2 separate regions of the Homo sapiens genome follow, and region 1 is linked to region 2. The links come from fine-mapping of genetic effects on gene expression. A gene starts in region 2. The other region holds a variant in brackets. All regions are shown on one strand. Distances are from middle to middle. Region 1 overlaps C3AR1 (complement C3a receptor 1). Region 2 holds the start of NECAP1 (NECAP endocytosis associated 1).

What was found. PIP is the estimated chance that this variant, and not a neighbour inherited with it, causes the effect.
Region 1: its variant is fine-mapped to the expression of NECAP1 in whole blood (TOPMed, PIP above 0.99). The same link has a PIP of 0.9 or more in monocytes, monocytes after LPS, monocytes after Pam3CSK4 and monocytes after R848.

The regions. Positions count from the first base shown.
Region 1 is chr12:8,055,292-8,060,674 of GRCh38, reverse strand. C3AR1 (complement C3a receptor 1) reads left to right here. Exons shown (of 2, transcript NM_004054.4): 2 at 480-3,831. The coding sequence starts at 490. The coding sequence ends at 1,938. FOXJ2 (forkhead box J2) reads right to left here. Exons shown (of 11, transcript NM_018416.3): 11 at 5,158-5,383. Among named protein-coding and RNA genes, the nearest start is that of C3AR1, 8.4 kb to the left of the region's middle. The variant T/C (reference allele first, on the strand shown) is at 2,634.
Region 2 is chr12:8,079,448-8,084,830 of GRCh38, reverse strand. NECAP1 (NECAP endocytosis associated 1) reads right to left here and starts at 2,557. Exons shown (of 8, transcript NM_015509.4): 1 at 2,448-2,557. The coding sequence starts at 2,542. RefSeq lists enhancers at 2,315-2,374, 2,445-2,664, 2,096-3,295.

The DNA of each region.
Region 1 (5,383 bases), 24 kb after region 2:
GCCTATAATCCCAGCACTTTGGGAGGCCAAGGCAGGCAGATCACCCGAGGTCAGGAGTTCAAGACCAGCCTGGCCAACATGGCAAAACCCCGTCTCTACTAAAAATACAAAAATTAGCCAGGCGTGGTGGTGCACGCCTGTAATCCCAGCTACTCTGGAGGCTGAGGCAGGAGAATCGCTTGAACTCGGGAGGCGGAGCTTACAGTGAGCTGAAATCAATCCACTGCACTCCAGCCTGCGCGACAGAGGAAGACTCTGTCTGAAAAATAATTAATAAATTAATAAATAAATATAATTGTCTATCAGAGAATGCTTTTATGTGGTCCCGTGTGAGGTGAAGGAAGGCAAACTAAAACAGCGTGAGGACCTTCTGGTTTCATGATCCCACATCTTTATGTGGGAAGATTAGAATCCTAAGAATATGTATGCATTTTCAAAAAGATACTGTTTGTTTTAACATTTTTTTCATCTTTTTGCAGAAGTTTAGCAATGGCGTCTTTCTCTGCTGAGACCAATTCAACTGACCTACTCTCACAGCCATGGAATGAGCCCCCAGTAATTCTCTCCATGGTCATTCTCAGCCTTACTTTTTTACTGGGATTGCCAGGCAATGGGCTGGTGCTGTGGGTGGCTGGCCTGAAGATGCAGCGGACAGTGAACACAATTTGGTTCCTCCACCTCACCTTGGCGGACCTCCTCTGCTGCCTCTCCTTGCCCTTCTCGCTGGCTCACTTGGCTCTCCAGGGACAGTGGCCCTACGGCAGGTTCCTATGCAAGCTCATCCCCTCCATCATTGTCCTCAACATGTTTGCCAGTGTCTTCCTGCTTACTGCCATTAGCCTGGATCGCTGTCTTGTGGTATTCAAGCCAATCTGGTGTCAGAATCATCGCAATGTAGGGATGGCCTGCTCTATCTGTGGATGTATCTGGGTGGTGGCTTTTGTGATGTGCATTCCTGTGTTCGTGTACCGGGAAATCTTCACTACAGACAACCATAATAGATGTGGCTACAAATTTGGTCTCTCCAGCTCATTAGATTATCCAGACTTTTATGGAGATCCACTAGAAAACAGGTCTCTTGAAAACATTGTTCAGCCGCCTGGAGAAATGAATGATAGGTTAGATCCTTCCTCTTTCCAAACAAATGATCATCCTTGGACAGTCCCCACTGTCTTCCAACCTCAAACATTTCAAAGACCTTCTGCAGATTCACTCCCTAGGGGTTCTGCTAGGTTAACAAGTCAAAATCTGTATTCTAATGTATTTAAACCTGCTGATGTGGTCTCACCTAAAATCCCCAGTGGGTTTCCTATTGAAGATCACGAAACCAGCCCACTGGATAACTCTGATGCTTTTCTCTCTACTCATTTAAAGCTGTTCCCTAGCGCTTCTAGCAATTCCTTCTACGAGTCTGAGCTACCACAAGGTTTCCAGGATTATTACAATTTAGGCCAATTCACAGATGACGATCAAGTGCCAACACCCCTCGTGGCAATAACGATCACTAGGCTAGTGGTGGGTTTCCTGCTGCCCTCTGTTATCATGATAGCCTGTTACAGCTTCATTGTCTTCCGAATGCAAAGGGGCCGCTTCGCCAAGTCTCAGAGCAAAACCTTTCGAGTGGCCGTGGTGGTGGTGGCTGTCTTTCTTGTCTGCTGGACTCCATACCACATTTTTGGAGTCCTGTCATTGCTTACTGACCCAGAAACTCCCTTGGGGAAAACTCTGATGTCCTGGGATCATGTATGCATTGCTCTAGCATCTGCCAATAGTTGCTTTAATCCCTTCCTTTATGCCCTCTTGGGGAAAGATTTTAGGAAGAAAGCAAGGCAGTCCATTCAGGGAATTCTGGAGGCAGCCTTCAGTGAGGAGCTCACACGTTCCACCCACTGTCCCTCAAACAATGTCATTTCAGAAAGAAATAGTACAACTGTGTGAAAATGTGGAGCAGCCAACAAGCAGGGGCTCTTAGGCAATCACATAGTGAAAGTTTATAAGAGGATGAAGTGATATGGTGAGCAGCGGACTTCAAAAACTGTCAAAGAATCAATCCAGCGGTTCTCAAACGGTACACAGACTATTGACATCAGCATCACCTAGAAACTTGTTAGAAATGCAAATTCTCAAGCCGCATCCCAGACTTGCTGAATCGGAATCTCTGGGGGTTGGGACCCAGCAAGGGCACTTAACAAACCCTCGTTTCTGATTAATGCTAAATGTAAGAATCATTGTAAACATTAGTTCTATTTCTATCCCAAACTAAGCTATGTGAAATAAGAGAAGCTACTTTGTTTTTAAATGATGTTGAATATTTGTCGATATTTCCATCATTAAATTTTTCCTTAGCATTGTCTAAGTCTTCCAGATTCCATTTAAAACCATTTCTTGTTCTCCTACGTGAGTGAAAGATGATCATATATCCTAATGCTTTGTTGTCGTGTGGTGTTGATGGTTTTAAACGAAAAGAAAGTGCAAAAAGAAAATGCCTGTGAAGACAAGAAGCCATGAGACTGAGTCTGGAGCATAGGGTTATGCAATGATGCCTGTCCCTGGGAACACCCCTGGGTACAGGATATAGAAATTTCCACTATTACATAGAGTTTCCACTATTACAACTAAATAAGCATCTATTG[T/C]GTGAAAACTGACTCATGAAATGTTATGAAAGCTGTGGTTTGGGGAGTTCTGTTTCTTCTAACTGCCTACCGGTTGGGCACCTATTTTCCACTCCTCTTCCTAAGCTCCTTAATTTCCTTATTACTCCCCAGCCTCCAAATCTTCCACATCAGACTTTGTGCCTCAAACAACCTCTAATTTCGTAAGATTCTAGTTACTCCCTTCCTCTTGCTCCAAATGAATACTTTCTAAGAAAGTATTTCAAGTGGAAGGAGAAAGAGGGTGGAGGATGGAGCAGCAATTCTTCTACTCTCTGCAACTGAGTACCCTACCAGGCTTGCCATCACATTTTAAAACATGACGACAGGCAACTTACATGCCAAAATTACCAAATATATCTTCTGGGTTTTTTAAATCCTTTTCTTTGCCAAAGTAATACATGCACATAGTTTTAAAATAATTTAATAAGGTATATAATGAAATATGAGGTCTCCTACCTCACTGTGCCCAAAAGTTCCCTCCTCCCACTCTCATTTCCCAGAGATAATCCTTGCACAATTTTAGATGTTTCCTTTGATAATTATCATGATGTTTCTAAATCATGTGCTTATGCTGCTCTTTTCTGGAGGCATGATAAAACGACTTCTTGTTTTGAAAGATGAAGATGTTTATCCAAGCACCCCATATTTTTAATTTGTTTATCCAGCATCCCAACATTCATTAATAACCATATTTTAATTCATTCATGACCACATATTTTTCTTCTACTTTGTCTATACACTCCAACCATTTATATAGCTTTCCTTCTGTCCCTTTTTCATTTAAAACAAAATTACCTAACTCCCTACCACCTTCTCATTTTTCTGTATATATAAATGTTTGTGTCAAACGTCTGAAATTTCTGGCTTGTTTGTATCACAACGTGGCCTCATCTAAACCAAATACAATGATGTAGTCTAAAAACAGAAAATGACATGTGTTTTAGACCTGCAAGACACTATCTGTTCAATGGCTGAGGTGAGGGTCTGGACTACAGATTTTTTATAAAGTATATGCAGAAAAATTACAAATCACTAGGAATTCTTTCAGTTGTGAAGAATGTCTGACATAAGATTTGAAGTGCTACCTTTCCAGCTTATATATTAATTTGCTTATATATTTGATATGAATAAATGCTTTTTTTCTCATGGGTCCTTGCGAGGCTCAGAGATTTATGAATCCTTTTGTTTCACATTCAGAATATATCACATCTCTAAATATGCAGCAAATAAGTCTCCTAGTGAGTGACTATAGACTTGCTATAATAGCAATTAGCCAGGCTTCCAGAAACCCCAGCACATCCCATAAGACCCTGGGAATAAGACCTAAACTCCTGGGGTTAGTGTATAGGATATCAAGGTGAATAATCTTGACGCAGTTATAAAGATTTAATGTACAACGAGTAATCAGCATTTCTGGACTCCTTTTCTTTTCCATTTGCTTTGGAAATGTATTCTGAAGAAATTCCTACAATTAGAGCTCCCTCATTTCTGATGAAAACCTGGTGAGTACCTGTAACTATTTTGTACTGTATCTTCTCCAGGAAGTCCCAGATGGGAACACAGCTCCTGTCCAAAGTATAATATCTTTTCTTTTTTTTTTTGAGATGAAGTATCACTCTGTAGCCCAGGCTAGAGCACAGTGGCACACTTGGCACGATCTCAGCTCACTGCAACCTCCACCTCTCGGGTTCAAGCAATTCTTCTGCCTCAGCCTCTCAAGTAGCTGGGATTACAGGCGCCTGCCACCACACCCGGCTAATTTTTGTATTTATAGTAGAGATGAGGTTTCACCATGTTGGCCAGGCTGGTCTCGAACTCCTGACCTTGTGATCTGCCCACCTCGGCCTCCCAAAGTGCTGGGATTACAGGTGTGACCCACCGCGCCCAACCAATATCTTTTCTTTTTGAGAGAGAGTTTCGTTCTTGTCACCCAGGCTGGAGTGCAACAGTGCAGTCTTGGCTTACTATAACCTCCGCCTTCCAGGTTCAAACGATTCTCCTGCCTCAGCCTCCAGAGTAGCTGGGATAACAGGCATGCACCACCACGCCCGGCTAATTTTGTGTTTTTAGTAGAGACGGGGTTTTACCATGTTGGTCAGGCTGAGCTCGAACTCCTGACCTCAGGTGATCTGCCTGCCTCGGCCTCCCAAACTGCTGGGATTATAGGCATGAGCCACCACGCCCAGCCCCAAAGTATAATATCTTAAATCTTTAAACTATCCTAAAATGCAAGCAAGGTGGGCCTACTCCATATACCAACCTACAAGGGGTGACTGACTCTCCCGCAATATGTCATCATACTTGATAGCATTTGAAAAGAGGCACGTTAAGGACGTGCCTTTGATTCTTCTTTCCCACCAAGGTCACAAAACGTGTCAGGGTCAACTAATTCAACCCAGTGGTGGAAGGTGGAAGAGGAATAAAGACGAACTGAGACTAAATTCTTTCACGTTTCTCTTTTCCTTCCCTGGCCAAAAGAAACTTGAGACCACTACCAGTAAGATAAAACTGTAAACATTCTTTTTTTTTTTTTATTAAGAAAGCATGCAAAAAAACAATGACAACAACTTGTGAGACCATATACCCCCTTCCCAGGATGCAGCAATGCAAAGCATTATGGGTGGTGGCACAAAGGACTCACCAAACCAGAAACATGAGGAGCAGGGACTGAGGAGAGAAAGGTTGGGATGGGTGGATCTATACCAAATAATTACTCCTTTTGTCCCTCT
Region 2 (5,383 bases):
CCAGATACTGTGCTAGACCCTGGGAATATAAAGTTAAAAAGATCTCAAGTTGTTCACAGTCTAGCCTGGAGAAAAAAGGAGACTAAACAATCCATTGTACAATCCACTGTAATCCATTACAATACAAAATGAAGAGCCCTGGAATAGAGATAAGAATAAAGTGCTATGCAGGAACAGAAAACCAAACACCACATGTTCTCACTCACAAGTGGGAGTTGAACAGTGAGAACGCATGGGCACAGGGAGGGGAACAACACACACTGGGGCCTCTCGGGGGAGGGGCGAGGATGACAGGTTGATAGGTGCAGCAAACCACCATGGCACATGCATACCTATGTAACAAACCTGCACATTCTGCACATGTATCCCAGAACTTAAAGTAAAAAAGAAAAAGAAAAAGGTGCTATGGAAGCACACAGGGTGCATATCTAAACCAGAATGGAAGGGTCACATAGGGCCTCCCAAAGAAGGTGATGTTTAAGTGACTCATATAGTACCTGTAACTACCATCTAAAAGCATGTTGATTTCTACTTAGGGTCAGTTTGGGGTCCAACTAAAAGCTTATTAAAAACAGAACTGCTACCTCTTTGCCAAAGGTGCAACCCACAGGGCCCAGCGCACAGGTCAGCAAGCATAAAAATATTGATTCATGATGAATAAAACGCCAGTAAGGGGCAAAATAACAGACATAAGGAGAGGGTAACTTTTCAGCCAAGGTAATGATAAATGCCAGGAGGAAAAATCACAATGATGATGTGGGTCAGAGAGAAGAATAAGAACAGTATCTTGGCCAGGTGCAGTGGCCCACACCTGTAATTTCAACACTTTGGGAGGCTGTGGCAGGAGAATCACTTAAGGCCAGGAGTTCGAGACCAGCCTGGGAAATATATCAAGATCCTGTCTACACAAAAAAATTTAAAAATTAGCCAGGCATTGTGAGGCAATGCCTGTAGCCCTAGCAACTTGGGAGGCTGAGGTAGGAGGATCCCTTGTGCCCAGGAGTACACAGCTGCCGTGAGCTGTGATTGCACCACTTGCACTCCAGCCTGGATGATAGAACGAGACCCTGCCTCTCTAACAAAAAAAAAAAAAAAAAAAAACGACGGCTGGGCGTGGTGTCACGCCTGTAATCCCAGTACTATGGGAGGCCAAGGTGGGCAGATCACAAGGTCAGGAGTTCAAGACCAGCCTGGCCAACTTGGTGAAACCCCATCTCTACTCAAAATACAAAAATTAGCCAGGTGTGGTGGTGCATGCGTGTAATCCCAACTATTCAGGAAGCTGAAGCAGGAGAATCGCTTGAACCCAGGAGGCGGAGGTTGCAGTGAGCTGAGATTGAGCCATTGCGCTCCGGCCTGGGCAACAAAGTGAGACTACATCTCAAAAAAAAAAAAAAAAAAAAAAAAAAGAACAAACAAATAGTATTTGTAACTGCTTTATTGCATTTCCTACATTCTTTCACATCCATTATATGATTTAATTTTACTCTCCCAAAAACCCTTGTTAAGCACATTATAAGAGCGCAGGTATCATCACTAACAGGTTTTTTTTTCTATTTTACAGATGAGAAAATTGAGGCTTGGAAAGGGCTCACACTCATATGGTTTAACATGAAGCCCAGTGAACTGTCTTTCAACTACATAATGTCCTATAGCATCCTCAGAACCTCACAGTCATTGGATTACAAGGTAGGTAGTTAGGCCCAACAGAGAAAAATGCTGCCTCAACTTTGGAGGGAAAAGGTGTAGGAGAGGTTAAGAAGGGAGGTAGGGAAGGAAGACAGAAAATACTATATAATCATCAAGAAAATACAATGAGAAGAAACAGAATGAACAACCGTTGTAAAGCTTATGATCATAACCTTTGCTCACTGGTAAAACTGCTGAAGGAAAAACCGAATGGTGGATGATGACAGTTGGTGACGAAATTGACAACAGTACAAAAAATAAATCAGATAATCCAGAGTGGCAAGCAACACGATTACCCATAAATGTGCATGGGGAACTGGAAAGGTGTGTGTGTGTGTGTGTGTGTGTGTGTGTGTGTGTGTGTGTGAGAGAGAGAGAGAGAGAAAGGATGAGGATGATAAGCTGAAGGACGCAGGGAAGAGCGAATGAAAGGGGACTGGCAATGGAGCAAGCACGACTGAAAGTGCATGATGGGGAGCAGATGGGTGCCCCAGGGGATTACGGGAGAGGCAGAGTGGAATAACGCAGAGTGGTAATTTAATAAAAAACAAAACAAAAAAAAAAACGGCAGAAATATGGTGATGACAGTCCAGAGTGGAGATGGAGCAGGTGGTCAGGGAGATGACAACCCAGGTAGGGAGGCTAGCAAGGTGACAATACAGAGGTAGTAGTGGCAGGGACGGACAGCGTGCTAGCTGAGAAGGAAGCTGTCATCTGCGACAGAGTACGCGTGTGCGGCAGCGCCTCGGGGTTAGTACCTGTAACCGCGGTTGGAGGCCCGGGGCGGAATCCGGTAGACGCTGACGTCTGGCTTCACACACAGCACAGACTCGTACTCCAACTCGGTCGCCATCTTGGGTCCGCTGTCGGCGCTGCCGGGGGCGAAACGTAAGACCGGAGGCGGAGCACGGGAGGCGGAGATGCAAAGCGCGACAACTTCTGTTGCGTCACTTCCGCGCGAGTTCAAGTTAGTTTCTGAGATTAACCTTTTCGGTGACGCGGGGAGCCATATTGAAACCTGGAAACGATGAGGCTGCACGGCTCACCGTCTTGGATAATGGCAAAGATGGCCTGCAAGTGCGTGACTCTCGTTATGGAAATCTCTGTCCTGGAGAGGTGCTTACGAAAAGCGCCATCTTACTCTAGGCAGGTGCCTGGAGTGTCCTACGAGGACGAGGACCATATTGAATCGTGACGGATTTTCTTACAGGAGTCACTTCCTAACTGTAGTCTCCTGGCAGAAAAGAGGCAACCTCCAGCCGGTAGTCCCAGACGAGGTACCTGCAGAGAATGATGTATGATCTGGTCATAGACACCGTGGATTTCAACTCTCCAGAGTCTAAACGCTGAAAACACCCAACTTGATTTAGTGCCTTACACTCTTTATCTCCGATTTTTCAGGACGACACCTGTTAAAATGTTTTGCCACACTTTCGGCGTGTATTCCGATTATCTTTTTGGAAAATTTGATCCTGTTAAATAGACTATACGTGGGATCAACCCAATTCCTGATAAAATCGGAAGCATAATGAACTATCTAATGGCCTATATTAGCTCCCAGTTCTATTATAATGATAAATGCTACCGAACTCTCACCATAAATATGCTTTTTCTGCGCCCCAAAGGTAAACTTAACCACAACACCCTGACAGTACAGATAGCAAGTGGCAAAACTGAGACAGAAACTCAAGCCTGCCTCATTACAACAGCAGCAGTCTTCACCGCTGCTGGAGCTGGCAAGGTCACCAAGTCTGCCCAGAAAGCTCAGAAGGCTAGATGAATATCATCCCTAATACCTGCCACCCCACTCTTAATCAGTGGTGGAAGAACGGTCTCAGAACTGTTTGTTTCAACTGGCCATTTAAGTTCAGTAGTAAAAGACTGGTTAATGAAAACAATGCATCGTAAAACCTTCAGAAGGAAAGGAGAATGTTTTGTGGACCACTGGTTTTCTTCTTCAGAAGGAAAGGAGAATGTTTTGTGGACCACTGGTTTTCTTTTTTGCGTGTGGCAGTTTTAAGTTATTAGTTTTTTAAATCAGTACTTTTTAATGGAAACATCCAAAAATTTGTCACAGAATTTTGAGACCCATTAAAAAAGTTTAATGAGAAAAAAAAAAAAAGCAAACCTGCCTCTAATTTGTCTGCTCCACCTTGGAAAGTGATATCTTAAATTTCAAAAAGAATTACCACATTTATCCCTGGCGAGGACGTGAGGAACAGTCTAATCTCATACACTGTTGGCAGGAATGTAAATTGGCACGGCATTTTTAAAAGGGAAATTAACAGAATTTATCAAAATATTAATTGGACGTAATCTTCAATTTAGCAGTTTCACTAATAAATATTGTAGAGAAATCCTTATATGCACAAAAAAGTATGTACAATAATACTACAGCATTGTTTGTAATAGTGAAAAAAATGGAAACAAAATGACCATCTATCAATGGGAAATGGTTAATGGTATATCTATTACTATGAGATGTTTTGAACTAAAGGGTTAGCCATTGAAAGAGATCCAAGATTTTTTAAAGCCAACTGCAAAAAACATACAGCATTATCAACTTTTGTCGAAACACCCCAAAATTATATATGCATGCATGTAAATGCATTGAGAAGGCTTTCAAAGGATATAAGGCTAAGTGGGGGAAAGAAACTTATTTTCTCCTCCATATATTTCTCTGTTGTTTAAGATTTATATAGCTATTATTGTCACTGAATACATGTTAAAAGAAAAATAAAGACAGAAAAGTGGTTTATTACTTGTTGTTCCTTATTTCTGACCCTATGATCTCATCTGAAGCCTAGGTCATATGACTACACCACATTGTACCTCTTTTTTTTTCTCTGTTCTGTGTTATCACTGGCAATCATTTTTGGAGGATTCTGGCTTCTGGTTCACCTTCTTACTAGTTTATACTCTTCCTCTTCTCCCAAATCTTTTAGAGATTTCAAAGCCCATATAGTTAACTCTTCCTAGCCATACAATCTCTTGACATAAATTCTAACTATCTTTACCTCTCTTTTCTACCTCACCTGTTCTTCTTCATGTTCTGCACATTGTTAGCCTTCTCTTTATTCCTCCCATCTCCTTGTTTCAACAGTTCTCTTGCCAGCATCCTTAAGTTTCCTTTCCTCTTTGTCTTTCCATCACAGCCAACCCAAAAGACTCCAGTCTTATATATTCCAACCATCTCCCTCCATCATTCTCCAAAAGCAAATCACACAATTATAAAGATTGGTGTCCCTAAAAGTTTATGGGTTTGAGTCTCAGCTTTGCCCTTAACACCCAGATTTGCCATTGCTAGTTTTTATTTTCATTCCCTTTAATGGTTGTTCCAAATTTTGCTGCCCTTTCAGGCCTTCAACTCTAAGTCTTCTCTTTTTCTTTCTTGACAGGTAAAACATCTTACTACTTCCCTAAGAAAATAAAGTTTGTGTGAACTCTCTCAACTTAATGACACCCTATTCATACTCCTATCTGCATCTTCATCTATTCTTTCTCCTATCCACTTGTGTGTGCCCTGGATTCTCCTCAGGGACCAATCTCCTCAGGGACCTGGTTAATCAGTTATCTCCTTTCTTTCCTGTATCTTAAAACTCATTTTCCATTCACCCCTTTCCCTCACCATGTAAGTATATTCAAGTCCTTTCACCTAAAAAAAAAAAAAAAAAAAAACCCTTACTTAACCATG